7 linked regions of the Homo sapiens genome follow. The protein of the gene in region 5 interacts with the protein of the main gene of each other region in a pairwise test. Each region holds a gene or a part of one and is shown on either strand. Other genes may lie near its edges. The genes, in order: ZFAND3, DYM, SLCO3A1, RPA2, GOLM1, KCNE3 and TF.

Region 1 (3,987 bases), on a different chromosome or scaffold from region 5:
CGCAGACCCAGTTCCTGTGGACCAGTGGGCAGAGCACAGCCCACTGCTCCCTGCAGGCCCGCCTCACACCCAGGCCACCAAGGCCCTCTCTTGCCCTTTGCCCCCGTGCTTGTTCATCGCCACTGGGCCTCTGATTTCCTCTGAGGATTTTCATCACGCTCATGACAACTATGCGGTCAATATCTCTGTCCTAAAAGAAGTGGGGACAGGTCCCACTCCTGTGCCTCGCCCCTGCCCTGCCAAATGTTTTTTGAACATTTAAAAATGTAGTTAAGTTCATCCTATACACCAAAGAGTGCCACAGCACACACCTCCTCCAAGCCAGCCTTTGGGAGCCTTCGTCATCCATCCTGGAGGCCCTTCCTAGGGTGGGGTTCGGGTCTAGGGCATGCTGCCTTCCCTCAGGACCCAGCACCCACCCCACCCACGCCTGGGGCCCTCAGGGCTGGGGCTCGTTTTCTGATCCCCCCCAGTGTGTAACCTCCTGGCTGCTGGCACAGGCTTGGCCCTGCAGACCCACCTTTACCCCAAGGCCAGTCCCGCAGCTTCCCAGGGCAGAGGCTCCCAACAGAAAGCAAGGAAGCGGCTGTTTAGCCTGGACACTAACTGGACGAGTGCCTCCAAGTACTGCAGACGGTCTCTGCACACAGGCCCCCATCTCTTTCCAGCCCTGGCCAGGGAGATGGGTCAGTTTTCCCAGCAACCCAGGGGGCACTTAGGAGAAGGGGTGAAACAAGAAAACCAAACTTTCATACGATTGGTTTAATTTTTTTTTTCAGCAGGAGAAAAAAGAATAAAGTTACAAGATTCTTTTAATATTTTCACAATGTTAAAACTAAAACTGAGCTCTAGGCTATGTGTGTAAGTAAATCTAGAACACAAAAGGGTTAAATAAGATTTTCTCTTTTAAAGATACAAGAATTTAAGCTTTCCTTACATTTAACAAACTTCACAGAACAGATACTGCAGGGGAACAAGCCCCACCCCCCACCCCCCCCAGCTCTAAGTCAGGAAGCGAACATGGGCTTCGCTCCCCCAGGCCAGCTCCCCTGGGCTCCTTCCCATGGCTGCCTCCACGCAGCAGGCAGAGGAGGGGGCGGGGGGCCCTGGGGAGGGCCGGGAAGGGCTCGCACAGCCTCTTCGGGACCAGAGCTTGGCGGAAGCCTATGGGGGGCTGCCTCACTGAGGATGGCCCGTATGGTGGCCAAGGGCTGTGGCTTGACAGCAGTGGTAAACGCTGGGCAGACCTGGCCCCTCTGCCCTGGGTTGCCCTAGAGCAAGACACCGGTCTGGGTCCTGAAGCAAGAATTAAGGCTGGGGATTTTGCAGCGGGTTCCACTCTGGTGGGTGGAGGGTGGGAAGAGCATGACTTCCTATTTCAGTACGTCGGATCAAAAAACATTTGCAGTTGCAGGTGTTCAGCTGTTAATTTGCAGACAGAGTTGAACCATTTGTTGTTTTATAAAAAGGAAAGTTGCTGGGTTAAACTATTCCAGTAGCCTATGTGTGGGCAGATCCACGCTGCCTCCGCAGGGGCCTCCTGCCCTCACCCACCTGGATCTGATGCGGCACTAGGACCACTGGGACTGCTCACCCTGCCTGGGCTTTCAAGGGAATCCTGATCCTGTCCACCCAGCCCCAGCCCCACCTGACTGGTAGTGATTTCCTAACATGGGGCAACCAGGCCCACCCCCACCCTTCCCCACCTGGCGTGCGCAGTTGCAGCTGCTGAAATCCTCTGTGAACATGAGGGGGCACAGGTGGAGAAATGTACCCTCAGGCCCTCACCTACCAGAGCAAATATCACTCTCGGAGCTGGGCCACAGCCACAAACCGCTGTTCTAGACAGATCCAAACCCACTGTCCCTGGGACGTATGCTGCCTTCCCTTACTAAACTTGCTATATGGTAGATGTGGACTGGGTGTCCTTGGACTATGGGGCTGCATAGAAACGAGAATGGAGGCCACGACATCATCCTCTTGGCCCCTGGAGGCACGGGCGGCTCCAGCTGGAAGGGGCAGAGCCCGTGGGCGGCAGCTTCCCCAGCTGCTGCTCCCAGCACTTCTACTGATTCTTGTTGGCTATGAAATGTCTTTTTAAAAAACTCCCAATATAGAAATCTGGCTGCAGAGGCCAGTGTGCAGACCCAGCCACCGCGCTGTGCTGCCATTCGCCACATCTGGTCCGTGCCAGATCCCTGCACTGGCGAATGGCAGACCAGAGCCGGCGGAGGCGGGGCACTCTGGCTGCTTCTCGTGACCTTGGATCCTGTGTAGAAAAGGCGGGTCTCGTTCGTGGACTAGTCTTGAGTGGAGCTAATTTTCAAAGTGAGGTTACTGTTTCTCTTCTTGTGTGATGAGTTTTTTCATAGCAAGTCAGGTAAAAAAATTTCCGTAAGAATCTGTCCCCCACCCCCCATTTCCAGCTCTGTGGGAGAGTGAGGCCACCACCCAGCCCAGCCACGTGGCCAATCTCAGCAGCCTCCCGTGGCCAAGGCACACGTGGCCATCAGGTATCCTGGCTACTGGGACTAAGGATAAGTGAAGAGGTGAAAGGCCGATCATTAAACAGAGTTTCTGGCAAAGCCATGTGCGTCGTGGGAACTTTAACACCAGCTTCTACTCCTCTATTAACTCAGAGTCTCCGTCTGGAACACTTTCCACTTAAGGCTTTTTATAAGTTTGACTCCAGCAGTGACAGGTATGTGTTGTTTTAAATCCACTAGCCATGCTCAAAAAAAAAATATTCTTCATGTTTTAATTTTATACAATGGCTAGCAGGCACCTTAGTAACCAGCCAGAAATCAATTTCAACCACCATCAACCCCTAAACTACAGTACCAGGATGGCTGGCTAAAGAAAGGAAACGGACTGGCTGCAGTCTGACGCGTGCCCAGTACAAGGTGTCTGGCTGACTTTGTCCTAAATAAGGCTAACATTAGTGAACTAAGAACAGCGTCACGTGGTGGCCATGCCTGGCCTTCAGGAGCACCCCTCCCCGATGCGCTGGCAGGAGCGCCCCACTTTCCGGTCCAGCTTCACCATTTTCATGATGGCTTCCTCCCGGCCACGGCCCATGTGGTCGAATGTGCAGTCGTGCTGCTCGGGGAGGCGATGTAACATACAGAACACATAACCTGCAGCAGCGGGAGAAGCAGAGGAAAGAGTGTGTTAGGGTGGCCTCCAAGTGCGCAGAGCCTCACAATTGCCTTTGTCCAGAGGATGGAGGGGCATCCCAGTGAGTGGACAACACTCACTGCAGGGGTTCCTGATGCAGCAGAGAGCTCACTCCAACACCTGCACCCTGGAGCAAGAGGGTCAGCACTTTGCATTCCACAGCTGCTCAAGCCTGTCCCTGCCTGGACCCTTGAAGGGTAGAACCCTAAGTTGATGGCTGCGAGACACAGCCCTGTCCTTGCAAATGAGTGGGCTCTGCGCTCCTCTCCAGCACCATGCAGGCGGAAGAGCACAGGCTGTCAGCTCAGCTCTCTGCTTGGCTCGGGCAAACTGTGATTTCCACCACAGGATGCCCACCATTTCTAGGAGGCAGGAGAAATGATTATGTCTTAAATGACATTCCACCTCCTGTACAGCCGGGGCTTGAGAGGATGGTGGGAGTGATCAAACCACAACCCAAAAATGAGTGGGAGCTCTCAAAGGAAAGTGGATTATTTCTAGTGCTAGAAAAAGTATTAGATAGAAACAGAGGAGACAGCAATGCTGGGCTCCAATCGCCATCTCCAAGGAATCTGACACTTCTAACTGCACTGGGTAGGTGAGAGAGGTTGAGATGCCCACACTCGGGCCCCCAGCTGTCCTTCCCTCCACTGGGTAGGTGAGAGAGGTTGAGATGCCCACACTCGGACCCCCAGCTGTCCTTCACTCCACTGGGTAGGTGAGAGAGGTTGAGATGCCCACACTCGGACCCCCAGCTGTCCTTCACTCCACTGGGTAGGTGAGAGAGGTTGAGATGCCCACACTCAGGCC
Region 2 (4,089 bases), on a different chromosome or scaffold from region 5:
CAAGACAGGGTTCTTGGATCTCGTGCAAGAAAGAATTCAGGACTAGTCCGCAATGCAAAGTGAAAGCAAGTTTATTAAGAAAGTATAGGAATGAAAGAACGGCTACTCCAGAGACAGAGCAGTCCCCAGGGCTGCCAGTTGCCCATTTTTATGGTTATTTCTTGACTATATGCTAAACAAGGGGTAGATTATTTATGCCTCCCCTTTTTAGACCATATAGGGTAACTTCTTAAGATTGCCATGGCATTTGTAAACTGTCATGGCGCTGGTGGGAGTGTAGCAGTAAGGATGACCAGAGGTCACTCTCGTGGCCATTTTGGTTTTGGTGGGTTTTGGCTGGCTCCTTCACTGCAACTTGTTTTATCAGCAAGGTCTTCATGACTGGTATTTTGTGCCAACTTCCTATCTCATTCTGTGACTTAGAATGTCTTAACTGTCTGGGAATATAGCCTGGTAGGTTTCAACTTAATTTACCCAGCTCCTATTCAAGATGGAGTTGTTCTGGTTCCCATGCCTCTGACAATATCACGTTAAATAAAGTAAAAATATGCACATTTTGTAGGACATAATACAAAACAAAGTGCTGGGTTTGCAGGTATTGAGTGGGCTATGCTCTTGGGCCCTGTGAGGATAAACATTCACTCCATTCTTGCTGCTAGCACTTCATGGGAAGGTTTGCAACTTACCAAGCAGAACTATGTTTTTGGTACTACTGGCATCACAAACATGAAGGCCAGCATTAACAAAACTAACACACGCAAGACACAATTCTAATTAAAAGCTCTAACTTCAGACATCAGTATATATTTAAAAAATATAGAAGGCTAATGATCAAAATAGTAAATTAAACATATCCATCTCTTGAAACTCAAACTCAATGTATAAAGCACAAGCTCTGAAAATCATGCTAAATGATAAACAATAACTGTGAAAGATGATGGGGTGGTTTGGGAATAGTTAAATTAATTAGATTCTACATAATTCTCACAAATATTCTCTCCTAGAAAAAAATAAAGTATATAACATTCAAAATACCAAAATTCTGCAGTATCTCTCACACACCAACTTAGTTAACTTCCTCAAAATCCTTGATTAAGTCTATACTATAACATACAGTTATATGGTAGTCAGAGAACATAATGGTCAATCCCAAAAGAAGATCAAGACCAGCAAAAAATCTAGCTATATTCAGAAACAACTTAGAAGGTCTTATGTTCCTTTCCTACTTAGTGACTGAGAAAGAGACAGAAAATGTATTTTGCCTGTGAAAGTTTAGGGGGAAGAGGAAGCAGTACCTGTTTTTCCAGTACCACTAATCAAATGTGGAGTCAAAGGGACTTTTATTATTGAAATAAATTTTGGTGAAATGACAAATGCTCAATCTCTAAAAATATTAGGATGGTTCAGTTTGCTTCCTGTGCCTCAGCTCCCTTTTCCAAGGTAGCTTAATGAAAGGTAGCTTCAATAAAATTTGGCTGCCTAGGCCAGGCCCAGTGGCTCACACCTGTAATCCCAGCACTTTGGGAGGCCGAGGTGGGCAGATCACATGAGGTCAGGAGTTCAAGACCAGCCTGACCAACATGGTGAAACCCCTGTCTCTACTAAAAATACAAAAGTAACCGGGCATGGTGGCACATGCCTCTAATCCCAGATACTTGGGAGGCTGAGGTAGGAGAATCACCTGAACCCAGGAGGCGGAGGTTGCAGTGAGCCGAGATCGTTCCATTGCACTCCAACCAGGGCAACAAAAGTGAAACTGTCTCAAAAAAAAAAAAATTGGCTGCCTATCTTTTTTAGAGCAGAATCTCAAAAGTTCAACAGGAATTACTTCAGAGTAGAAAGCACAGAATCCAAGAAAGGAATGGCTGATCTACAGTGAAACTGGAGAGTTGTTTCCCCTGAGAAGACAAGGTAAACATTTTTATCCAAGGGAAATACTCGTGGGGCAGCCCCTAAACACCTGGGGCTCTCACAGTTACAAAGCGGGAAAGGGGAAAAGACACACACACACACACACACACACACACACACACACATCTATACCTACCTTGGGCTTTAGAAGAAAAAAATATATATATATAAACATATATACACATATATATATGTATATATACACACACACATATTCATTGTCATTTTATTCACCCTTTATAGGAAACTATTCTTAATAAATTATAACTTGGTACAGTATCTGAAATTTAACATTTTTTTAACAGCATCAAAGAGAATTTCAGTACCTATCCCCTTCCCCCTATCCCCCAAAGTTAATGAGGTAGTAATTCATACTAACTCAAAACTGGACAAAACAATAAGTGACCTTCCATGAAATGGTCTTCTGGGACAGAAGGGAAAATAAAAGATGACAGCAAATAAAACTGCTAAAATTGATATGCTTGCTTTATTCAAGAATAATAAAGTTATCCACATTTTAACTATGAAATGTAGAATAATACCTGAGATACTGTGATGGTTAATATCGAGTGTCAACTTGATCGGATTGAAAGATGCAAAGTACTGTTCCTGGATGTGTCTGTGAGGGTGTTGCCAAAGGAGATCAACGTTTGAGTCAGTGGACTGGGAGAGGCATACCCACCCTCAATCTGGGTGGGCACCATCTAATCAGCTGCCAGGACAAATAGAATAAAGCAGGCAGAAGAACATGGAAGGAACAGACTTGCTGAGTCTCCTGGCCTTCATCTTTCTCCCATGCTGGATGCTTCTTGCCCTCAAACACTGGACTCCAGATTCTTCTGTTTTTGGACCCTTGGACTTACACCAGTGGTTTGCCAGGGACTCTTGGGCCTTCAGACACAGACTGAAGGCTGCACTGTCAGCCCTACTTTTGAGGTTTTGGGACTCAAACTGGCTTCCTTGCTCCTCAGCTTGCACAGGGCCTATTGTGGCACTTCACGTTGTGATCATGTGAGTCACTACTCCTTAATAAACTCCCCTTCATATATACATCTATGCTATTTGTCCTGTCCCTCCAGAGAACCCTAATACAATAACTTTCAAAGAAAAGTAGAACATATGATTTCCCTTCCCTGCAACCAGCCAACTATGTCATCTGTTGGAAAGAAACTTTAGAACACTTACGAAACAAACTTAATTGTGATATTTTTAATTCAGTATGCTCTCAAGGATGAAACTTGAATTTAAATACACTCAACCATATTTGTCCAGTATCAGTAGAGGAAAACAAAAATGTTTCCACATAAACAGAAAACAAAAGATTGCTGATATCTTGCTCAAGCACAAACTAGAGTCTGCTCATCTATCTGCCTATTTGGGGACAGGGCATATGTAAACTGCAGCAAATTCCATTTAGTCTACAAACTTCTGACCAAAGAAAATGAAGAGCTCTTGCCTGCTAAATGTTCTGCATGCCTTGCACACAGCATTGCTATGAGGCAGTAGTTTCCTGCCCTGTGATGTTTGCCACCTTTCAGTTTTCTCAAAACCTGCAGAACTTAGTGAGATTCGGACCTTACAGAAATGAAAGGCGATAGACTCCTTGGACATGAACCTGCCAAATGGCTATCAAGGTGGCCAGTCACAGAAAAGCTGTTAAAATGTTAGAAGATGGTAAAATCGTATTTTCAAAGTGTGAGTCAAGAAGAATGTCCTTTTCTAATTTGGAAATACACTGAGGATAAGAATGAAGAAAAAGATTGCAGTAAAACAGAAATTCATATTCTATTTCTCCAAAACCGTTTCCTGATCTTGAAAGAGGCCATAAGGAGCCTAAAGAAGGATGAAATGACTGTCCTAAGTTGCTCAACAGTATGTGTAGAAAATTGCTCTACCATCAGGTAATGGGGTCTCAGAGGGAGAAGAGATAAATACACATGGTCACTCTGCTACTTGAGTTGAAAGTATTGTAAACTATTGTTTTCTTGTACCATGTCATTTCATTTGCTCAAAATGTAACATAATACCTTAATACATTTAAATGATATAACCAGAATTTCCATAAGATTTTTGCCATCTAAAAATAGTTTTAAGAAATGCTTGAATGCACAAAAGGTTAACTTTCCACAGAATCTTTTCTACTTCCCCATAATATTGTTTTTAAAAATTCTAGGCCGG
Region 3 (4,089 bases), on a different chromosome or scaffold from region 5:
TGACCCACCAGTACAAGTACGAGGCGGGCGAGATCCGCTGGGGCGCCGAGGGCCGCGACGTCTGCGCAGCCAACGGCTCGGGCGGCGACGAGGGGCCCGACCCCGACCTCATCTGCCGCAACCGGACGGCTACCAACATGATGTACTTGCTGCTCATTGGGGCCCAGGTGCTCCTGGGCATCGGTGCTACCCCTGTGCAGCCCCTGGGCGTCTCCTACATCGACGACCACGTGCGGAGGAAGGACTCCTCGCTCTATATAGGTAGGAGCTGCCCCAGCCGTATTAGCAAGAGACCAGGGTGTGTTGACCATGGATAAAAGGTGGCCTGGTGGACTTTGATTTTGCCAGAGTACTGGTTCTCAGACTTGGCTGCACACCTAGTGTTCTTGAAAAATACTCATGCCTGGGGGTGCAACCTGGGCATTGAGACGTTTTTAAAAGTTCCCAGGTGATTCTTGTGAGCGGCCGAATTTGAGCTCCACGGGGCTAGACCACTAACACCGCTTCAGTGGGAAAACATGATCGGGAGGAGTTGTATGTTTATCTCTTCTTTTTGAGTGCGTATGTGGACTTTGGGCTTTCTGATATTAGCCACCAAGGTATACTTGGGGTCTACACATTGGAAACTCCAGCTTTGAAGAATCAGAATGATGTCCTGGTCATTGTCCTGTTGCAGCTCAAAAGGAGAGGTGATGGCTTTGCCAGCATTTGGCATCATTCGAAGTTGGTGACTTCCGGTAATTTTTTCAATAATGGAAGTATGCATGGGAATTGGGTATGTAGAGAGAAATAAGGTATTTGTGTTTTGAAAAGTTATTTTTCACGGTCAGAGTTTCTGATGTTTTATACTGGAAGGATGGAAACCACTTGTGCGTGGGGGTTAAGAATCATCTGAGTGGCAAGTTGTTTATTACGTGGCGGGCAGTGTTTTCAGTGGCTGCGGTGGGCTCTGTTGGATGGCAGCGTGCAAGGTGAGGGCTGGCCAGCCCCGCATCTCTATCCCTTGTTTACAAAGTATAATTCTGTCTCCTGCCAGCTGCTGGATTTTTCTGACATCCCCAGTCACTGAGTGCTAAGCTTTGAAAACATTACCTCTACCCAGGGAAGCTTTATGCCTCCCAAAAGCAATGTGCCTTGAGGTAGAAAGTTAATTATATTATGGAGTTTTAAGTGAAAATAGAATTTGAACTGGATTTGACATAAAGGTTCCTATCTGCCAGGCTTCAAGCTTGCTGAGATAGGATGGTTTGGAAGCAGGACACACCGAAATGCAGATTTTTCTCTGTGTCTTTCTGGCCCAGCTTTGGAGTAGACGCGTTTACTGAACACGGATGTTGCACGCGGATGTTCTGGCTGGCTGTGAGCAGGCTCTGGGCAGGAAAGATGGAAGGAATGCGCCTCTCCATTCAGAGGATGGAGCACCAGTGAGCCTAGTCACCAGCTACCTATGGAACAAAGGGGAAGAGAAAACGGCTCAGGCCAGAGATGGTTAGGGGTTTCCATTATTACCTGAGAGTGGTTATGGTGGAGGAAGGGAAACTAAGGTAATCATTTTTCTTTCATTGCCTTAAGTCTTGAGTGAAAGCCGCTCCACGTGAGTTTTTTGCACACCAGATCATGGACTACAGCATGTAGCCACAAAGGTCTCCTGAGGTCCACCCTCTGACTTGACTGATGTCACCCTAGGGCTCTGGGAGAGTTGTTTTCTGGTAGGAATAACAGGAAGTAGATCAATCAGAGCACAGGGAATGAAATGGGGAGTGAAAACCTGAATTGTTGTCTCTGCTGATAGAATCAAGTAGAAAAATTTCTCCCCAGAGTCACCCCTGAAGTCCTAACAGTGCTGTATCACTTCTGCCTGGGGCTTCCAGCCGTAGTCACTGAACCCTCTTCTGGAAGTGTCTCCTGATGAGTTAAGCTGTGCTGTTTCCCCACACTGGGTGAGGGTTGGTTTGAATGTGCCAAAAGCTTTATGGTGAGGAAGCACTTTGGTTTGGGACATGGGGGTGTGGGAGGTGGAGGCGTGGACAGTAGGGCTGATCATTTGAGGCAGAAGGCCTTCTTGAATTCTGAGGCCTTGTCTGTGGGATTTGCATTGAGTCTTTGGTAGGAAGAACTATTCAGCCAAATTTCTATTTGGTCACCCCATTCCTCTGTGATAAGTCTGAGTTGGGGGAGTGTCTCTTTGCATGACATACGAACATCTTGGTGGCTCTGTTACATATGGCCAGATTCCAAAACATCGTAGCCCATGCCATGGAGATGATAGTTCTGGGTTTCTCTGCACTGGTTTACATGGGTTTGTGTTTATCGGGATCAGGAGAGGACAAGTCTTTTGCATAGATTGGCCTCAATAGGGGGCCTTTTATTCCATATGTGGTTTATTCTCCAGGTATAATTTAAGATCATAGCATATGCAGAGTATAACTGGTTCATTTATTTATTGTATGAGCTATAAAAAAAGTGTTTGTGGTAGTGAGAATATTTCAGAGTTTATCTCCTCTAATATGGCACTAGTTCCTGAAGCCACTTAACTTTACTTCACAGTATTTGGGGTAGCCCACTGAACAGGATTGATATAAAATTCTGGCCTCTTAACTCCCTGAAGAGGAGGAAAGTCTCAAGGGACTGATGCTGGGACTGTAGGTGTAACTGTATATCCATCGGGGAGGAATAACATGTGTACCCCTGGTTCCAGCTCCTGCAGAGTTGGTCTAGAGAGGGGCCCACAACCAATTGTCTGGTCATATGCCTAAATCGTGACACTATAGTGGAGATTGAAAGGATTCTAAATATGGCATGTGTAAAACACCAGCTTGTTCTTGAGCTGAGCCTTCCCTTTGGGTGTCAGCAGGGAACAGAATGATCAACATGCACAGCTCAGGCTGCAGATCAGTGGTGATGACACCTGCCCCGGGTCACCCGCATTGTGGGTCACTAGATGGGTGCTGTTTGTACATCGGTGGCCGTGTCGTAGCTTCCACTACAACCCAGGGCAAAGTGAAGCATTCCATCTTGAATCAAGCCGATATTTTCCACTGAAATGACTTACTTGCTTTGGCCTCTTGTGGCTGAGCCGCTGCCAGATTCCTGGATTCCTGGATGGGCTATTCACAAGGGGCTCCTCTGGCTGGCACCATTCTTCAGCCCGTCCTTTCCAGTGTGGGAGGGAGCCAAGGGAGCTCATTACCAGGGGACAAAACTGGATGAATGGGGACTCGGCTCTGCTGGCAGGCTTTCACTGCGGCATCATGCGGCACCCGGACTCACAGTGCAGCCAGACGGTGACCCGTGGGTGGCACGTGGCACTCTTTGTTCCTAGAGTGACTACATGGGCGCAGTGGCAGTGGAGACCACTGGGCCCCTACTGAGGTCGGAGAATCCATTCTTTGGGAGTCTAGTCATGCCTCTAGCTCCATGTTGTGATCTTCCATTAGCCCAGTTTTCTTAGCTGTCCTTCTGTTTCTCTAAGTTCAGAACACAAGTCGTATTTGCTTTTTATGAAAGTGTAAGTAGGATGATGGAATGGGCTTACTGTGCCCTTTCATTAGGTTGCCCCCCTTTTTTTTTTCAAGGAGGAAAAGGTGAAATGGGAGTACTAAAGATTTCTCAATAACTTTATTCCTAGTTAAAAAGCATTACATGTTCACCGTTTACAATTTTGAATATGTAGAAAAAGAATAATTAGAGAATATTGTAGCTTTATGGTGTACACAATTCTATTCTCTCTTCTGCATTAGCATGCTTTTCTATGAAAATGTGTTCAAGATAAATGATGTTTTGTGTAATTTCATTTCTCTTACTATTTCATGAGCATTTGTTTGTTACTATTCTATGACATTGCTGCATATATAATCCCTTCTGAATATATACGACAATATTTAATACTTTCTATAGTTGGACATGGATTTTTAAAATATTTGCTGTTTTAAACAAAGCAGATAGGTAAACTGTGATTCCGAGAGGTTGAGTAACTTACCCAAGCTCATTTACCTGGATAGGGCTGGGCTGTGGGTCTGAAAGTGATGCTTATTTCAGGTATGTCTGGGATCTGCTCACGAGGCTGGGATGGGAGCTCAAGGGTGGTGC
Region 4 (4,089 bases), on a different chromosome or scaffold from region 5:
AATAGCTTCTTGTAGGACAGATTTTTTGACTATCAAATGGAGCTCCTGGGGAAATGGAGTAAGAGCTTGGCCATGTTGGACATCTTTTTAAATTTTTTTTCTTTGAGACAGAGTTTCGCTCCTGTTGTCCAGGCTGGCATGCAATGGCGTGATCTCAGCTCACTGCAACCTCCGTCTCCCGGGCTCAAGCGATTCTCCTGGCTCAGCCTCCTGAGTAGCTGGGACTATATGTGCCAGCATTTTGCATTTTTAGTAGAGATGGGGTTTCACCATGTTGGCCAGGCTGGTCTGGAACTCTTGACCTCAGGTGATCTGCCCACCTCAGCCTCCCAAAGTGCTGGGATTACAGGTGTGAACCACTGCCCTCGGCCAAATTTTGTTTTGAGATGGGGTCTTGTTCTGTCACTCAGGCTGGAGTGCAGTGGCATTACAGCTCACTGCAGCCTCAAACTCATGGGCTCAAGCAATCTTCCTGCTATAGTCTCCTGAGTAGCTGGGACTACAGGCACACCACCACATCCAGTCAATTAAAAAAACATTTTTTTTTTTGTAGAGATGGGGTTTTGCTATGTTGCCCAGGCTGGTCTTAAACTCTTGGTCTCAAGTGATCCTCCGACCTTAGCCTCCCAGTGTTAGGATGACACACATAAACCACTGTGCTGGACTCATGTTGGACGTCTTAGGGGGAAGAGGCAGGATAGGGTAGGCAGAACAGTATCTAGTGAGCACACTCAAATTATATCTTTTTTTTTGAGATGGAGTCTCACTCTGTTGCCTAGGCTGGAGTGTGGTGGCGCGATCTCAGCTCACTACAACCTCAATCTCCTGGGTTCAAGCAATTCTCCTGTCTCAGCCCCCCCGAGTAGCTGGGATTATAGGTGCACGCCACCATGCCCAGCTAATTTTTCTATTTTTTTCTAGAGATGGGGTTTTGCCATGTTAGCCAGGCTGGTCTCGAACACCTGACCTCAGGCAATCTGCCCACCTCGGCCTCTCAAAGTGTTGGGATTATAGGCGTGAGCCACCGCGCCAGGCCCAAATCATATCTTAAAGCAGCCAGACAACAGTGTAAACTTATTTTTGCCTACCAGTGGCAAGAGGTAGTCTGGGTAACATGAAGATGAATATGATGGGACAGGATTTACCCTCAACATATTCCTAATCTAGGGGAGGTACAAAGGTAAACAATAAACCTGATCTTGATACACTGTAAAATGAAACATGCCATGTGGGACCTCAGAAAAGCTTACTGGCAAAAGAGGGAGGCTTTAGGCTGAACTCTGAAGCACGAGAATTTCAACAGCGAAAAAGTAGCAGGTAACAGGCTGAGGGCAAGTATGTACTCCCAGTCTCCTAGAGGGAATATGTACAAGGCACAAAAACGATGAGAGCTCTTCCTGTCAGAAGCCAAGAGGAAGTGGACCAATACCTGTACTACATGGAAGACTTAGAACACAGTAGACTCTTGGCCTTCATGGATTTAGCAGTCGCAACTCTGACCTGAACATCCACGACACTGCCAATATTTCATTTTGCTGAAGCATGATTGTGAATGGTGAGTATTGCCACAACAGGATAAAGCAAGCTCAGTCAACCGCTGGCACATATGCCACAAAAGGCAGCAGCCAAGCTTGAGGGTTAAGATTGTGGCTCTATTCTCAAGAGCAGCTGCTTGGCCAGGCGTGGTGGGTAACGCCTGTAATCCCAAGGCCGAGGCGGGCAGATCATTTGAGGTCAGGAGTTTGAGATCAAGCCTGGCCAACATGGCGAAACCCCATTTCTACTAAAAATTTAAAAAAAAAATTAGCCAGGTGTGGTGGCGCATGCCTGTAATCCCAGCTACTGGGGAGGCTGAGGCAGGAGAATCACTTGAACTCGGGAGGCGGAGGTTGCAGTGAGCCGAGATCATACCATTGCACTCCAGCCTGGGCAACAGAGACTCTCCTCAAAAAGAGAAAAAAAAAAAAGAGCGGTCGCTCTTGGTCACATGTATTAACTCATTTGTACCTCGGTTTCCTCATCTGCAAAACTAGGAATGATATTATAAAAATTACATGGTAAAGGACTCAGAATACTACCCAGCACAAAGCACTCAATAACAAATTTTAGCTATTATTATATTAGCTATTGTTCCTCATTCTTTACATTTGCAATAGCTTTTAATAACAACGTTGACAGGATCAACTTTTTCAATTTTACTTTATGGTATTTTATAGGTAAAGTTACATGCTATGTTAATATTTATAGTCTTAAAATTTGCAGGGGTCCCAGGATTTACCTCTCACAAACTACTATATTTCTGTTTTTACCTATCACAGCTGAGATTTTCATTGTATCTTCAGCATAAGAAAACTTAAGAACCAGTAAGGTAAAGTGGCAAGAACATGAGGTTTGGAGCCAGAGAGTCCTGTAGACCCATGCTCAAATCCCAGCTCCAAAGTCCTGGACACATGACCACCTTTTCTGAAAACTGGGGATATACACCTCTTAAGTTGTAAATGAGACACATAACATATATGAAGTGCTAATACCAATCTCTACATGTAGTAGATGTTTGACAAATATTATTACCTCTCAGGTAAAAATGTTACATATAGGTAACAGTTGAGATGTTAACAATGCCTTCAAATTCATCTCAAATCAAGTATTTATTTTTTATTGAGCATATATTTTATGTAGGAATTGATCACAAGGAATTCCTAGTCTGCTCCAAAGAGGTTCACAAAGTGTCAATAAAAATATGCTTAATTTTGGAAAAACAAAAACAAAAACACTTTCAAACTAAAAAAATTTTCATAGCTGACTATGAACCACAGACTACTCTGACAGTACTTCAGGAAAGTACCATTATTACAGATTAAAATTGGGTCGCTATTTGAAACTTCACATGGTTCAATCATATTGAACAAATACATAATCAACAGGAAACATTTTGGATAGAGTTCTTTATCACCCAGGGATGGTGCTGCACACCTGTAATCCTAGCTACTTGGGAGGCTGAGATGGGAGGATCCCTTGACCCCTGGAGTTAAGAGTCTGTGGTAAGCTATGACTGCACCACTGCACTCCAGCGGGGGTGAAAGTGAGACGGTCTCAATTTTAAAAGAAAAAAAGAATAGGGCGTTTACCTAACTTTTAACTGTGGAAAATACTAGATTTAAAAACAAAACAAGGCCAGGCGCAGTGGCTCATACCTGTAATCCCAACACTTTGGGAGGCCAAGAAGAGCAGATCGCCTGACGTCAGGAGTTTGAGACCAGCCTGACCAACGTGGCAAAACCCCGTCTCCACTGAAAATACAAAAATTGGCCAGGAATGGTGGCATGCGCCTGTAGTCACAGCTACTCGGGAGGCTGAGGCAGGAGAATCGCTTGAACCCAGGAGGTGGAGGTTGCAGTGAGCTGAGATTGTTCCACTGCACTCTGGCCTGGGCAACAGAGAGACTGTCTCAAAAAAAAAATAAAAATAAAAACAAAAAGACTGTCCGGGTGTGGTGGCTCATGCCTGTAATACCAGCACCACGGGAGGCAAGGGTGGGAGGACTGCTTTAGCCCAAGAGTTTGAGACCAGCCTGGGCAACATAGTGACACCCTGTCTCCACAAAAAGAAAAAAAAATTCAGAGACTGGGATTGAGTCTCCAACTTACAAGCATTATTCTCTGAAAAGCTATCTTAATACCCAGCTTTTAGGAATTCTGAGATAAAAATTATAATAACCAGAATGGAGAAAAATAGTTAAGCTTGGGAAGAAAAGATGAGAACCAATCATCTACCTTGTTTTCTCCTTCACAACCTCAAGAAAATCAGAATAGAGAATTAAAGTCCCTTGAGATCTTCTAGGAAAGAGAAAACTACAACAGGGAGAAGTTGCTGCTCATCAGATGTTGGATTTGTTCAGCATCATGTGCGTACTGTCTGATTCTAGTTCCTTACTAGCTATGTAAGCTTAGGCAGTCCCTTAATATACCTGAGTCTCTGTTAGTATGCTGGAATAAACAATAAATTCCTTACAGAATTACATAAAATAATTTATATGAAAGTTATAAAGCGGCCGGGCACGGTGGCTCACACCTGTAATCCCAGCACTTT
Region 5 (4,089 bases):
CTGTCTTCCCAGAACCACCCCAGTAGCTCAAATGAATGCTGTTAACTCACAGGAAAGGCAGGGAGGGATACCACAACCGCAATCCTACACAACCACAGAGGGGACCTCTCCCACCCAAAGCTGCTTGGGGTCTGGCCCAGGGCTGTGGGGGTGTGCAGAGCCCTAAACTCACCTTACAAGCGTGTGCCCTGCACAAAACGCCCTGGCTGGCAATAAACAACAAACCCCTGGGACCCCATCATAACAAAATAAACAAAACATAAACATAAAATAAACATAACAATAAAGAAAACAAAACACCTGGAGGTCCACGCTCCGGGAGCTCGCAATCCAGTAGTTGAAGCCCAAGACGATGATGCAGGCCACCAGGGCGGCCAGCACGAGGGGCGGCGACTTCATGCTGCGACGCCCGTTTCCCAAGCCCATCATCTCAAAATCAGCGCTGAGAATCTGCCAAGTAAAAGCAAATAAATAAACATCAATACTAGTTTTATCATCTCCGAAGCAGACCGTATCATCCTTACAACCAAGAGGAAAGGAGTCTTGCCAAGAAGCGTGGGCTGGTAGCTTCTCCTTGACGTGCAAAGCTGTCAAGGGAGAAGAGTATGTGAACGGCACGCACAGAGCCCATGGTGCTGTGAACCCAGGGCAGTGTGGCCAGTTCCCAGGACAGGCTCGGAGGAGCAGGCACCGCCCCGAAACCTGCCACAGATTAGCTCGAGACCTGGGGCAAGACATGATTCCTCTTACACTTCAGATTCCTCCCTTGTAAAATCATTACCATACTCACCTTCCCGGCATAGTTTGAGAATTAATCATTTCTGTAAGCAGCAATGTTTGAGAAGTAATCATTTCTGTAAACACCAATAACAAATATTAAGTGCTTCCGCATCATATTAGAAAGAGTATATTCCTCATTACTCCTCAGAGAGAGCTTTTTGCTTTGATTCCTAACAAGGGAGGTTTTTTTTACCCTTGACAGGATTACTAATGACACCCAATTAAAGCATTTCTCAAGCAAAGCAGGAAACCCATTCTGGAGGTGAATGTGAACTCCCCCCCATGTACATCATTATTCAGGCACAGCCCTGGCTATAGAAGTGTCTCCTCCTTCATGACACACAACGGAAGTGGGAGGTGTGCCATCTGCCTGAAGTCACCAGGAAAAATGTGTTCCATCTTAGGATTTGAGGTGGAAACAAGGCATTCACTCCATGCCAAACGAGAGCACCTTCTTTCGAACATTCATTTCTCACTTTAGGGACCGTATCTGTGCAACTGCTGCATTGTACACCTCATGTTAGGAAAAACAGTGCCTCTGTGTGAGAGCTACAGAGTGCACAAAAATACAGCTTAGAAGAAAGATGCCATAAATTTTGTTAATGGGCTTCAATTCAAAGCCAGGTCTGCCTGGATGCAAGCACTGGTCTCTAGGAACAAGGAAAGTAGACTTTTCCAAATGGCTTTTCCCAAGCCAGATAAAACAGAACCTTATCAGAGTGAGCGTGGCTGCACTGCAACAAACAGCCTTTGAGCACAGAGAGCCTTTTACACCAGGGGTGTCTAGCAACAGAGGAGGAAAGGGGATGGTGGGCAAAAAAGACAAGGGACGGGTAAGGAAGAGGATACCACCAAGGATTCACCTGCAAAACCCAATTCTCACCAGTGAGAACATGGGAGAACTGATCCTCACCCTATGGTCTTTTCAGGTGGGTCACCAAAAGGCTTCTTTTTTCTTAACAGCTAGCTACTAGTATGGGGGCCTGCCAGGGGATAAAGAAGCAATCTAGCCGAATCATCTAAAATAAAGCACCCCCAGAATTCCCACGGGTGGAAATTCTGACCTGTGCTCATGTCTTACCAGCTTCTGGCCTCTCAGGATGAAAGGGGAAACCACGTTTTTCTTTCAATTATCAGCTGATATCAGCAAGCACTGAATATACTCAAGAGACTCTTGATCACAAGAGTCTCTTTTTTGACTCTTAAACTTTTTAAAATTTTTGTTTATTTATTTTAGAGACAGGGTCTCTGTCGCCCAGGGTGGAGTCAGTCACGCAATTGTGGCTCACTGAAGCCTCAAACTCTTGGGCTCAAATAATCCTCCTGCCCTCAACCTCTCAAGTAGCTGGGACTACAGACATGGGCCACCATGCCCAGCTAATTTTTTAAAACAATTTTTGTACAGACAGGGTCTCACTATTGCCTAGGTTGGCCTCAAATTCCTGACCTCAAGTGATCCTCCCATCTGGGCCCCTCAAAGTACTGGGATTACAGGTATGAGCCAGTGCACCCAGCCTCAATGATTTTTTTTTTTTTTTTTTTGAGACGGAGTTTCGCTCTTGTTTTCCAGGCTGGAGTGCAATGGTGTGATCTCAGCTCACTACAACCTCTGCCTCCCGGGTTAAAGCGATTCTCCTGCCTCAGCTTCCCGAGTAGCTGGGATTACAGGCATGCACCACCACGGCCAGCTAATTTTGTATTTTTAGTAGAGACGGGGTTTCTCCATGTTGGTCAGGCTGGTCTGGAACTCCCAACCTCAGGTGATCCGTCTGCCTCGTTCTCCCAAAGTGCTGGGAATATAGGCATGAGCCACCGTGCCCAGCTAACCTTGTTTTTAAAATATAAAAGTACAAATACAAGAGGGGGTGGCAGGGACTTTTCCAAATGGCTTTTGCTAAGGAAAAAATAGGAAACTACACACAGTAGAGTATAAATTGGTCGGGTGCAGTGGCTCATGCCTGTAATCCCAGCACTTTGGGAGGCCAAGGCAGGTAGATGGCCTGAAGTCAGGAATTTGAGACCAGCCTGGCCAACGTGGTGAAACTCCATCTCTACTAAAAATACAAAAGCAGCCAGGCATGGTGGCACATGCCTGTAGTCCCAGCTACTCAAGAGGCTGAGACAGGAGAAAAGCTTGAACCCATGAGGCGGAGCTTGCAGTGAGCCAAGATGACACCACTGCACTCCAGCCTGGGCGACAGAGCGAGACTCTGATTAAAAAAAAAAAAGAAAAAAGGATAAATTACATCCCCCTCATCCTACTCCAAAGGAAAGGGATAACATTTTCTAACATCTGGGTCCTTCTGTTCCAGTGGTCCTCAACACTCAAGGGGCATCAGCATCACCTGGGACACTTTTTTTTTTTTTTTTTTTTTGAGATGGAGTCTCTCTCTGTTGCCCAGGCTGGAGTGCAGTGGCGTGATCTAGGTTCACTGCAAGCTCCGCCTCCCAGGTTCATGCCATTCTCCTGCCTCAGCCTCCCGAGTAGCTGGGACTACAGGCACCTGCCACCACACCTGGCTAATTTTTTGTAGTTTTAGTAGAGACGAAGTTCCCCCATTAGCCAGGATGGTCTTGATCTCCTGACCTTGTGATCCGCCCGCCTCGGCCTCCCAAAGTGCTGGGATTACAGGCATGAGCCACCGTGCCCAGCCTGACACTTTTTAAAATATCAATACCTGGGCTCCACCACTGCATTTCTTTTCTTTCCTTTTTTTTTTTTCTTGAGACAGGGTCTCACTCTGTTGCTCAGGCTGACACACTCACTCTGTCACCCAGGCTGAAATAGCTGCCTAGTGGTGTGATCCCAGCCTCAACTCCTGGGCTCAAGTGATCCTCCCACCTCAGCTTCCCCAACTTCCTGGGCTCAAGTGATCCTCCCACTTCAGCTTCCCAAGTAGCTGGGACTACAGGTGTGTGCCACCACGCCCAGCTAATTTTTTCTATTTTTGTAGAGATGGGGTCTCACTATGTTGCTCAAGCTGGTCTCAAACTCCTGGGCTCAGTGATCCTCCCGCCTCAGCCTCCTAAAGTGCTGGGAGTACAGGCGTGAGCCATCACACCTGGCCCCCAGCCCTGCATTTCTAATTCAATGGGGTTTAGGGCAAGGCCCGGATATTTGTATTTTTTAACCTCCCCAGGTGATTCATATGTATAGCCGCTATTCTAGATGTTTCTAGATGCATATATAAGCATCAATATATTTATTTTAATCCAAACAAGATCACACCATTCACACTCTTCTGTAAATGCTGTGTATTTCTTAGTAACACATCTTGCCTCCCCTTTTTTAGTAGCACATTATGGTTT
Region 6 (4,089 bases), on a different chromosome or scaffold from region 5:
GACGACCTCCCTTAACCGTGTTTCTTGTTGATCTTACAGATAGGGACACTGAGACCTGATGCAGTCCACAGCAGAGTTCTGGAGGCCCCAGACGCAATCCCCAGGTGTCTTGGTCTTCCACCGTCCCAGCCCTCTCGTGTTAGATCATAGACACACGGTTCTTGATATACACATGATAGGGGTCACTACGCTTGTCCACTTTGCGGGAGCGGGTGTATCCCAGGATGAGGCTGCCCACAGTTACAGCAAATAGAAACATGACAAAGAGAATGTACATGTAGGAGTTGTCATCACGGCCAGGTAGGCTGGCCCGCCTCTCTTCAGTCTGGTTGTCTGGCCCCAGCCCTGGCCCTGGCCGGCAGAGCAAATTGCTGTGAAGAGTGGCATTTAGAGCCTTCAGCACGGCATGCAGGCTCTCATACCAGGTCTCCGTTCCATTGGTAGTCTCCATAGCAACAGGGATTGAGGTGGGGGAAGACTCGGTAGAAGCTCTGGTGGCAAAAGAAAAGAGAGAGGGGATGGCTCTGTCACCTGCAGCTCAAATGACCTCCTCCCTTCAGATCCCAGGTAAAATCTTAGCATCATGGCTGATATGGTTTGGCTGTGTCCCCACCCAAATCTCATCTGGAATCATAGCTCCCATAATCCCCATGTGTCATGGGAGGGACCCAGTAGGAGGTAACTGAATCATGGGGGTGGGTTTTTCCCATGCTGTTCTCATGATAGTGAATAAGTCTCACGAGATCTGATGGTTTAGAAAGGGCAGTTCCCCTGCACCTGCTCTCTTGCCTGCCACTGTTTAAGATGTGCCTTTGCTCCTCCTTTGCCTTCTGCCGTGATTGTGAGGCCTACCCAGCCGTGTGGAACTGTGAGTCCATTAAACTTCTTTTTCTTTATAAACTACCCAGGCTCAGGTATTTCTTCATGGCAGTATGAAAATGGACTAATACAATAGCTTATTCTAGCTGCTTGATTACATGTTTGTCTTCTCCATTAGACCATACACTAAACAATAAGGGCAGGGCCTATATTTGTTTTACTCACTGCTATATGCAATCACTTATGACAGCATTCAATAAGTAAGTACTCAATAAATAATTGTACAACAAAGCCTTCCCTGACCATCAGAACCCATATTAATCTCTCCTTTCTTTGGTTTCTATAAATCACTGAACTTTAGATTAGAAGGAACTTAAGGATTATTTAATATAACTCTTGCCATTTTATACACAGGGAAACTGAGGCCTTGAGAGAATAAGTGGCTTGTCCATGATCACAGAATATTGGAAGTAGAGCCAAGACAGAAAGCCCTGCTCTTTGTGGCTAGCTTAGAGCTGCTTCCACTTCCATGCTAGCTCTCAGCAGGACTGTGCAGCACCATTAGAAGACATTCATCACAACTCTCCTTGAGCACAGTTCTCTTTAGACTGCACAGACAGGTTGGGCACAGTGGCTCACGCCTGTAATCCCAGCACTTTGGGAGGCTGAGGCGGGTGGGATCACTTGAGATCAGGAGTTGGAGACCAGCCTGGCAAATGTGGTGAAACCCGTCTCTACTAAAAATACAAAAATTAGCTGGGCGTGGTGGTGAGCGCTTGGTAATCCCAGCTACTTGGGAGGCTGAGGCAGGAGAATCACTTGGACTCAGAAGGTGGAGGTTGCAGTGAGCCAAGATAGAGCCACTGCACTCCAGCCTGGGCCACAGAGCGTGACTTTGTCTCAAAAGAAAAAAAAAAAAAGACTCCACGGACACCTTTTGGAAGACACCTGGGGATGGTTTAAATTTCATCCTGCCTGGAGGCCAGAAGCTGGATCATTTGCCCTCTCAAGCATCCTGTGTCCCAAAGACTAGATATTCCTAGCTATTTGTAGAAATTCTGTTGGAAAGAGGTGGTCAGGGAAACGGGAACAGGTTGGTAACCACTGCAGGCACTGGAGAAGAGAACAGCAGCTTGGGCCTGAGGGCGGGAGAGTGAAAGGAGTTCTCAGTCTGGCTTGGGGTTTACCTGCCCACAAAAAGAAGACACAAGCACGCCAACTATCTTGTCTCCTGAAATAAAGTCATTATGTACCTGGCATATAGTAAGTGATTATAAATGTTCCTTTCCCTTCTTCTCAGAGATCCTTAGTCTATAATATAGAAAACATTTTTTTTTTTTTTTTTTTTGAGACGGAGTCTCACTCTGTCGCCCAGGCTGCAGTGCAGTGGCGCAATCTCGGCTCACTGCAAGTTCCGCCTCCTGGGTTCACGCCATTCTCCTGCCTCAGCCTCCCCAGTAGCTGGGACTACAGGCGCCCGCCATCACGCCAGGCTAATTTTTTTGTATTTTTAGTAGAGACAGGGTTTCACCATGTTAGCCAGGATGGTCTCGATCTCCTGACTTTGTGATTCGCCCACCTCGGCCTCCCAAAGTGCTGGGATTACAGGCGCCCAGCCAGAAAGAACATCTTAAAACAGACTTGCATCCTTGTCTCTGAAAAACCATATGTAATTCCCTATAAACAAGGCCCCACACTCACTTCCTTTAGGAAGCCTCCATTCAGTGCTCCCCACCTCTCAGCCACACTACACTGCCTTTATCATCACAGCCTTCCCTTCCCCCCAGCACTTACATATAAGGCAATATGTGGCTGTCCTCTTGTTTTTGATAAGGATATCATCAGACCACATGCGTCTGGTCAGCAGGGCTATGTCTCTTACCCCAGTCTGGAGGACTACCCTGAGACTGGGTGTTCTCCTTTCCCAGGGCACTACCTTGAGACTGGCTGGGTATTCCCTTTTTCTAGATTGGCTGGGTGCTCTCCTTCTCTCAATAGTTTCTAGTAGAGATGTTCACTTTAAGGAATTCTCTATGGGCCAAGCATTCAGTCCTCCATCATATGGGTAGAACTGTTAACAAACTAATATGTGACTATTAACCATAAGATCTCTTCCCTGGAAAAGATGATCATTCTGACTATGAAAAATATTCATCAATGGCTCTATGAACACAATCAGCCAGGACTGGGCAGCATTTCATGCAAGGCCTTTGGGGCCTTCTGACATCTAGTACTTGTGCTGCCTTGTCTGGATGGAGGAGGGGAAAAGAACAAGAGCTCACTGAGTTAAGATCCAGGAGATACACGTTCTCATCTACTACCCCATGTGTCAGGCAAGAACTCTGTGGCTGCTGCTTCCCTCGTGTGGGCCAATAGCAAGTAGGAGCAGCATGATGAAATAAATAACTCAAAAAATAATCTAGATAGTTATCACCAATATGGGCCACACCCTGTGATGGGAGTTCGGGGTGGCTCAGATCCAGTGCCTTCGCCCAGGGGCTCTGATACAATGCAGGGGACAAGCAAAGAGCTACTAAGGCTGAAAGGAATAAGTGATGGATACTGATCAGGGCTCAGAGAGTGTCCACAGTGATGGAGGCATTTGAGTTGGACCTTGAAGGGTTTTTAAGAGGCAGAAAAGATGAAGGAAACATGAGCAAAGGCAGAACAAGAAAGTGTGTAAATGTTTAGAAGAATGGAAAGTAGCATAAAGAGGTTGGAGTGTAAGATGTGTGGAAGAATAGTGTAGGATGTGGGGCAGGAGAGAGAGGATCCAGATCATGGGGGGCCTTGAGTGCCACGCTGTAGAGTTGGAACTTTATTCTGTAGCTAGGGAAAAGCCATGGAATGGTATCTTAAAAGAAGATAAAATGGTCAGATCTGTGCCTGGAAAGGATACTCTGGCTGTCATGTGGACTGGAGGGAGCTGGAATTGAGGCAGTGAGCCCAGCTACCAGAGTCTTGAAATAGTTTAGTGTAAGATGCTGAGTCATGAATTGGGGCAGAGAGGATAACAAAGTAGGGAAGTGGGGGTAGAGACAGTCGTAAGACCTGAGGAGGAAATGGCTAAGTGAGGGTTGAAGGAGGAAGGGGCCTCAGGCAATTTCATAGGTAGACAACAAACAAACAGTGTAAGTGTCTTGATGAGCCTACTCTGAAGGAAATAAGTTCCTTTCCCTGGGTGGGCTTTGGTTTCCTCATCTACCAAAAGACATTATCATGGAGTTGTTGTATGGTAGGTATAGAGTTTCAATTTTACAAGATGAGGAG
Region 7 (4,089 bases), on a different chromosome or scaffold from region 5:
AAAGAGCTTTCTGTGATGATGCAAACATTCTCTTTGCTGACCAATATGGAGCCACATGTGGCTGTTGAGCACTTGAAATGCAGCTAGGTGGGATTGAAGAAATACATCTTTTATTTAGTTTAATTTTAATTAACTTAAATTTAAATAGTCACATCTTGCTGGTGGCTACCATATTGGACAAGGCAACTCTAATCAAAAGTTTACTGCAGAGCAATGGCATGTACACATAAACCCAGTCCTTTTCTTAGAAATAAGATGGAATTCTCTATACCCAATAAGTTCACTACCTTAGTGCTCTGAGCCTGTATCCCCTTACTATCTGCCCCTACAGTCTAGCCTGTCATACATGCCGGGCTTAGATTGTTCACTCACCATTTCATTTTGTCCATGTTGTCCTATCCCAAGGGCCACAGCCTACCCCTCCTGTACCCACCCACCATCCCAGCACTCACCACCATGTTTGGTTGCCACTTCCCCATGCTGTTCCTCCTACTCACATGAGGTGGAGCATTTTCTCAGGTTACCAACAGCCTTGACATATTCTTCTCCTAAGTATTTTTCATATGTGTTTCTGTCATGAAGTTTGGCCAAACATACTGTGTCATCTCTGAACAGAAGGTCCTTGGTTTCCGACCGGAACAAACAAAAGTTGCCCGAGCAGTCAGTTACGTTGCTTCCAAATAGGTGCTGTCAAGTGAACAGAAAGTCCGTGAGGACCTTGTGGTCTTTAGCAGCTGGGAACACATGGATGAGAAGAGTCTGAAAGCTCTGAACCAGCCCTGGGGAAAAAGGGAAGCTACGGAGTATGTCTTGGGAATTTTCCACCTCCTTTATCTGCCATTTATCCACTTAGGGCCCCAGCTGCATGCTTTCATGATGCCCCCAAAATCATCTATAGGGTCCCTGGTCCCACCTTCCTCTGATAAGTCCCTCCCACCCACACCCATGCCTGCCTACTCTGACCTCTCTTCCCCACTTCATTGCCCTTCACTGGGGGCTGCTTATAGGAAATGAGAGGACAATAACATGTCCCTTCAGATGTTATTGTCAAAGAAGATGTTAAATGTGAACCCTCCCAGAGGAGTGGCAGAGGTAGTTCTTAAAAGTTCATGTTTGACTGCATTTTGAATCCTTTCTTGGGCAAGCCACTCAGCTTCTCCAGATCTCCAAAGGTTGTAAGTGAAATGATGACTGCAAAATGTTGAACTTTCCATATAGCAGCTAGGAAATGTATGTTAAATGCTTATTATTGTCATGTACCTTAAAAGGACTTCAAATATACTCTTATTTTTTTTAAAAAAAGGTAATGGTGAATCAACAGCAGGCAGCTATGCCCAAAAGGAAGGTGATGTGTGTGTGTGGAGGGGCCTTTAGGATTAGAATACTCAGGCAGCCCCTGTCTTCAACAAGGCTGGCCCTGAGTGGTTGTTCCCCCAGAGGGCAGGCTCTCCGAGGGCAAGGGTCCTGTGTTTTTCAGACTGTTGAGAACAGTGCTCAGTCTGCCTAGGCAAGAGGAACAGAAATCCACTCTTCATGACTCGTATCAACAAGCGCTGGGAAACAGGAGCTGTCTTCTTCATTTTCGGGAAGGACAGGAGTAGGGGAAATGAGGGTACCCCTGAACAAGGTTAGGGGGAGCAGAAAGGCAGATTCCTAGTCCCAAGAGTACATGGATCAGATCTAATCACCAGTGACCAGGAGCTAGAAGCAGAGCTGGGCCTGAGAGGTCTAGTTCCATAATTACACAGCTAACATATTTTGAGCACGTCCTATAGGAAATGGAATTTTCCTATGCCGTTTGGGTGCATGTCTTCACTTAATACTCATGTTAACTGAGAAGTAGGTAAAAATATTATTATTACAATTTTATATATGAGGAAGCTGAGGCATAGAGAGGTTATGTAACATACCCAAGATGGCACAACTAGGAAGCTGTGGAGCTGTGATTTGAACCCTGATACTCTAGTCCACAATGCATGGCATGAAATGCACAATGCATGGAATTCTAGTTTTCAAAAAGAAAGTGCTGGAGTCATGGCTGCACTTTGTTGTAAACTCCCCCCGAATAGCCTATGGCCATCTAGGAAGAAAAGGTGGGAGGACCTGGCTGGTCCATACCTGCTGTTGACGTAATATCTTGTGGACGCAAGCTTCCTTATCTTTCCGTGTGACCACAGCGTGATTCGGGGCTCTGGCCAGGTGGCAGTTCGCATACTCCTCCACAGGTTTCCTGGTACCATCAAGGCACAGCAACTCATAGTCTTTTTCATTCAGATTCTTAGCCCATGGATCAGGGTTTTTTCCTAGGGACAGGAAGAAGGTGGTTCAGCTGATGGCTTTGGTCAAGGTGCCCCGCTGGGGAGATGGAACTGACTCAGTGGTGTGTAGAGAACCTGGGCCTTCTCGCCAGCAGAAGTGCCCACACTGGGGTTACAGTGATGTGGACAGGAAGAGACACCCATGTGGTCTACAAGGTGATGCCAGACTCACAGTGACCAGGAATGATTATTGACCATCCCCTTCCAACCTTCCCTACCCAGCCAGGTGAGAATGAACTACATTCTGCAGATGCTGTTCAAAAAGATCTTCAATTCCACTAAATTCCAATTCCTTCTGTACCTCTTGCTCCAACAGAGGAAGAATGTGACGCTCTAAGCCAGGTTGATCAATTTCTGTGCTGTAACACATGGCATCTCCAAACAAAAGAACTTTTCCTCAGAGAACACCTTTGGAATCTGCACCAGAATTTTAAATCTGACTCCCTTGTTCCAGTTCTAAATGAGAATGTGCACACACCTGTGTGATACAGGTCTGTATCCCATCTCGGCCCCTTTGCCTCTTCTTTTCTGTATTGTCTCTGAAAAAAAAAAAAAACTCACCCATTCTTAGGGTTTCAGCTCCTTCCTCCTGAGCCACTTTGCAAATATGTTTTGCTAATTTTTATTTCTCTCCCATAATTCAGAATTGCAACCTTTTTAAAAATGTATTTTTCATTTAATTTTGTTTCTTTAACCGAATAACTAATACATGAGATCACACTCATAAATTTTTGAATATCTCTCTATATTAACTAAAAGCCTCCTTTCCTATACTCTCCAAATCTCACTCAGTCTTATAGTGCTAGTCTTTAATATCACATTTGCGAGTTTCCATCCACGGCTCATTATATGTATTTTTCTACGTGTGTATATGGATTTCACATGTTTCTAATTTTGTTTAGTGTTAGATCTTGACAAATGTAAAACTCTGTAGCTTTTTTTTCAACTGTTTACATACCTTATAGATTCTTCTTGTCAGTACATACAAATCAAGCTCGTTCTTCTTAACTACTGTATTATATTTCATAGTGTGGCTATAATAGTATCTTTAAACCATTCCTCTTTTAATAGGCATCTGAGGTGTTTACAATTTTTTGCCACTAAAGTAGCGTTAAAATGAGTGTTACTGGCATATAATTGTGCTTACATAGAAGTGGAATAGTTAGTTCAAAGGGTATATGTATTTTTATTTTATTTTATGTTATTTTATTCATTTATCTATGATACTATGTTCTCAGCCCTCTCCAAGGCACAATCTTATTGGAGGGGAAAATAACACACATACCAAAACAAAAAATTCAGGGCAGGGATAATAATATTTTATATTTTGTAAAACACTCTAGATGCTGTGTGAGCTCAAACCAGGGCTTTGAGAACAAATGAATTAAGAAGCTGGCTGGAGGAGGCAAGATTTCAGTTGTCTCTTATAGTGTGTGTAGGATGAGAGGAGGAGAAAGGAATGCCTCTCTGCGGGAGGAAAGGAGAGTGCAGGCGAGACTGGGGGCAGGTGTGTGCCTGGTGTTTCTAAGGGAGAGAGGAGACCGCCTCTGGAACCATCTCAGGCAGTAGGGTATGTGAGGCACTCAGGCAAGAGGAAAAGTGGGTTTGTGAGGACTTATGAATGGAAATTGATGTTAATGAATGAGCCAGAACCTAAAGGTAGAAAATTAAGAAAAATCAAATGGGAGGTGATTCAGTCTGGCTAGGAGGGCATCTAGAAGGGCATGTTAAAAATATGCTTTTTCAATAAAAATAATACACGTTTATTGGT

The links.
Region 1: the proteins of GOLM1 (region 5) and ZFAND3 interact in a two-hybrid assay, tested with the Homo sapiens proteins (one large-scale study listed by IntAct).
Region 2: the proteins of GOLM1 (region 5) and DYM interact in binary tests that used the Homo sapiens proteins (3 or more experiments, as listed by UniProt).
Region 3: the proteins of GOLM1 (region 5) and SLCO3A1 interact in binary tests that used the Homo sapiens proteins (3 or more experiments, as listed by UniProt).
Region 4: the proteins of GOLM1 (region 5) and RPA2 interact in a two-hybrid assay, tested with the Homo sapiens proteins (one large-scale study listed by BioGRID and IntAct).
Region 6: the proteins of GOLM1 (region 5) and KCNE3 interact in a two-hybrid assay, tested with the Homo sapiens proteins (one large-scale study listed by BioGRID and IntAct).
Region 7: the proteins of GOLM1 (region 5) and TF interact in binary tests that used the Homo sapiens proteins (3 or more experiments, as listed by UniProt).

Annotation. Positions count from the first base shown.
Region 1 is NC_000006.12:38,151,385-38,155,371, reverse strand, and holds the end of ZFAND3 (AN1-type zinc finger protein 3), read right to left. Parts: intron 3,138-3,987; coding exon 2,983-3,137; 3' UTR 748-2,982; downstream 1-747.
Region 2 is NC_000018.10:49,373,195-49,377,283, forward strand, and holds part of DYM (dymeclin), read right to left. Parts: intron 1-4,089. UniProt on the Homo sapiens protein: Necessary for correct organization of Golgi apparatus. Involved in bone development.
Region 3 is NC_000015.10:91,916,198-91,920,286, forward strand, and holds part of SLCO3A1 (solute carrier organic anion transporter family member 3A1), read left to right. Parts: coding exon 1-261; intron 262-4,089. UniProt on the Homo sapiens protein: Putative organic anion antiporter with apparent broad substrate specificity.
Region 4 is NC_000001.11:27,907,762-27,911,850, forward strand, and holds part of RPA2 (replication protein A 32 kDa subunit), read right to left. Parts: intron 1-4,089. UniProt on the Homo sapiens protein: As part of the heterotrimeric replication protein A complex (RPA/RP-A), binds and stabilizes single-stranded DNA intermediates that form during DNA replication or upon DNA stress.
Region 5 is NC_000009.12:86,078,892-86,082,980, forward strand, and holds part of GOLM1 (Golgi membrane protein 1), read right to left. Parts: intron 451-4,089; 5' UTR 430-450; coding exon 301-429; intron 1-300.
Region 6 is NC_000011.10:74,457,113-74,461,201, forward strand, and holds part of KCNE3 (potassium voltage-gated channel subfamily E member 3), read right to left. Parts: intron 492-4,089; coding exon of another isoform or gene 452-491; coding exon 140-451; 3' UTR 1-139. UniProt on the Homo sapiens protein: Ancillary protein that functions as a regulatory subunit of the voltage-gated potassium (Kv) channel complex composed of pore-forming and potassium-conducting alpha subunits and of regulatory beta subunits.
Region 7 is NC_000003.12:133,773,647-133,777,735, reverse strand, and holds part of TF (serotransferrin isoform 1 precursor), read right to left. Parts: intron 2,304-4,089; coding exon 2,119-2,303; intron 688-2,118; coding exon 498-687; intron 1-497. UniProt on the Homo sapiens protein: Transferrins are iron binding transport proteins which can bind two Fe(3+) ions in association with the binding of an anion, usually bicarbonate.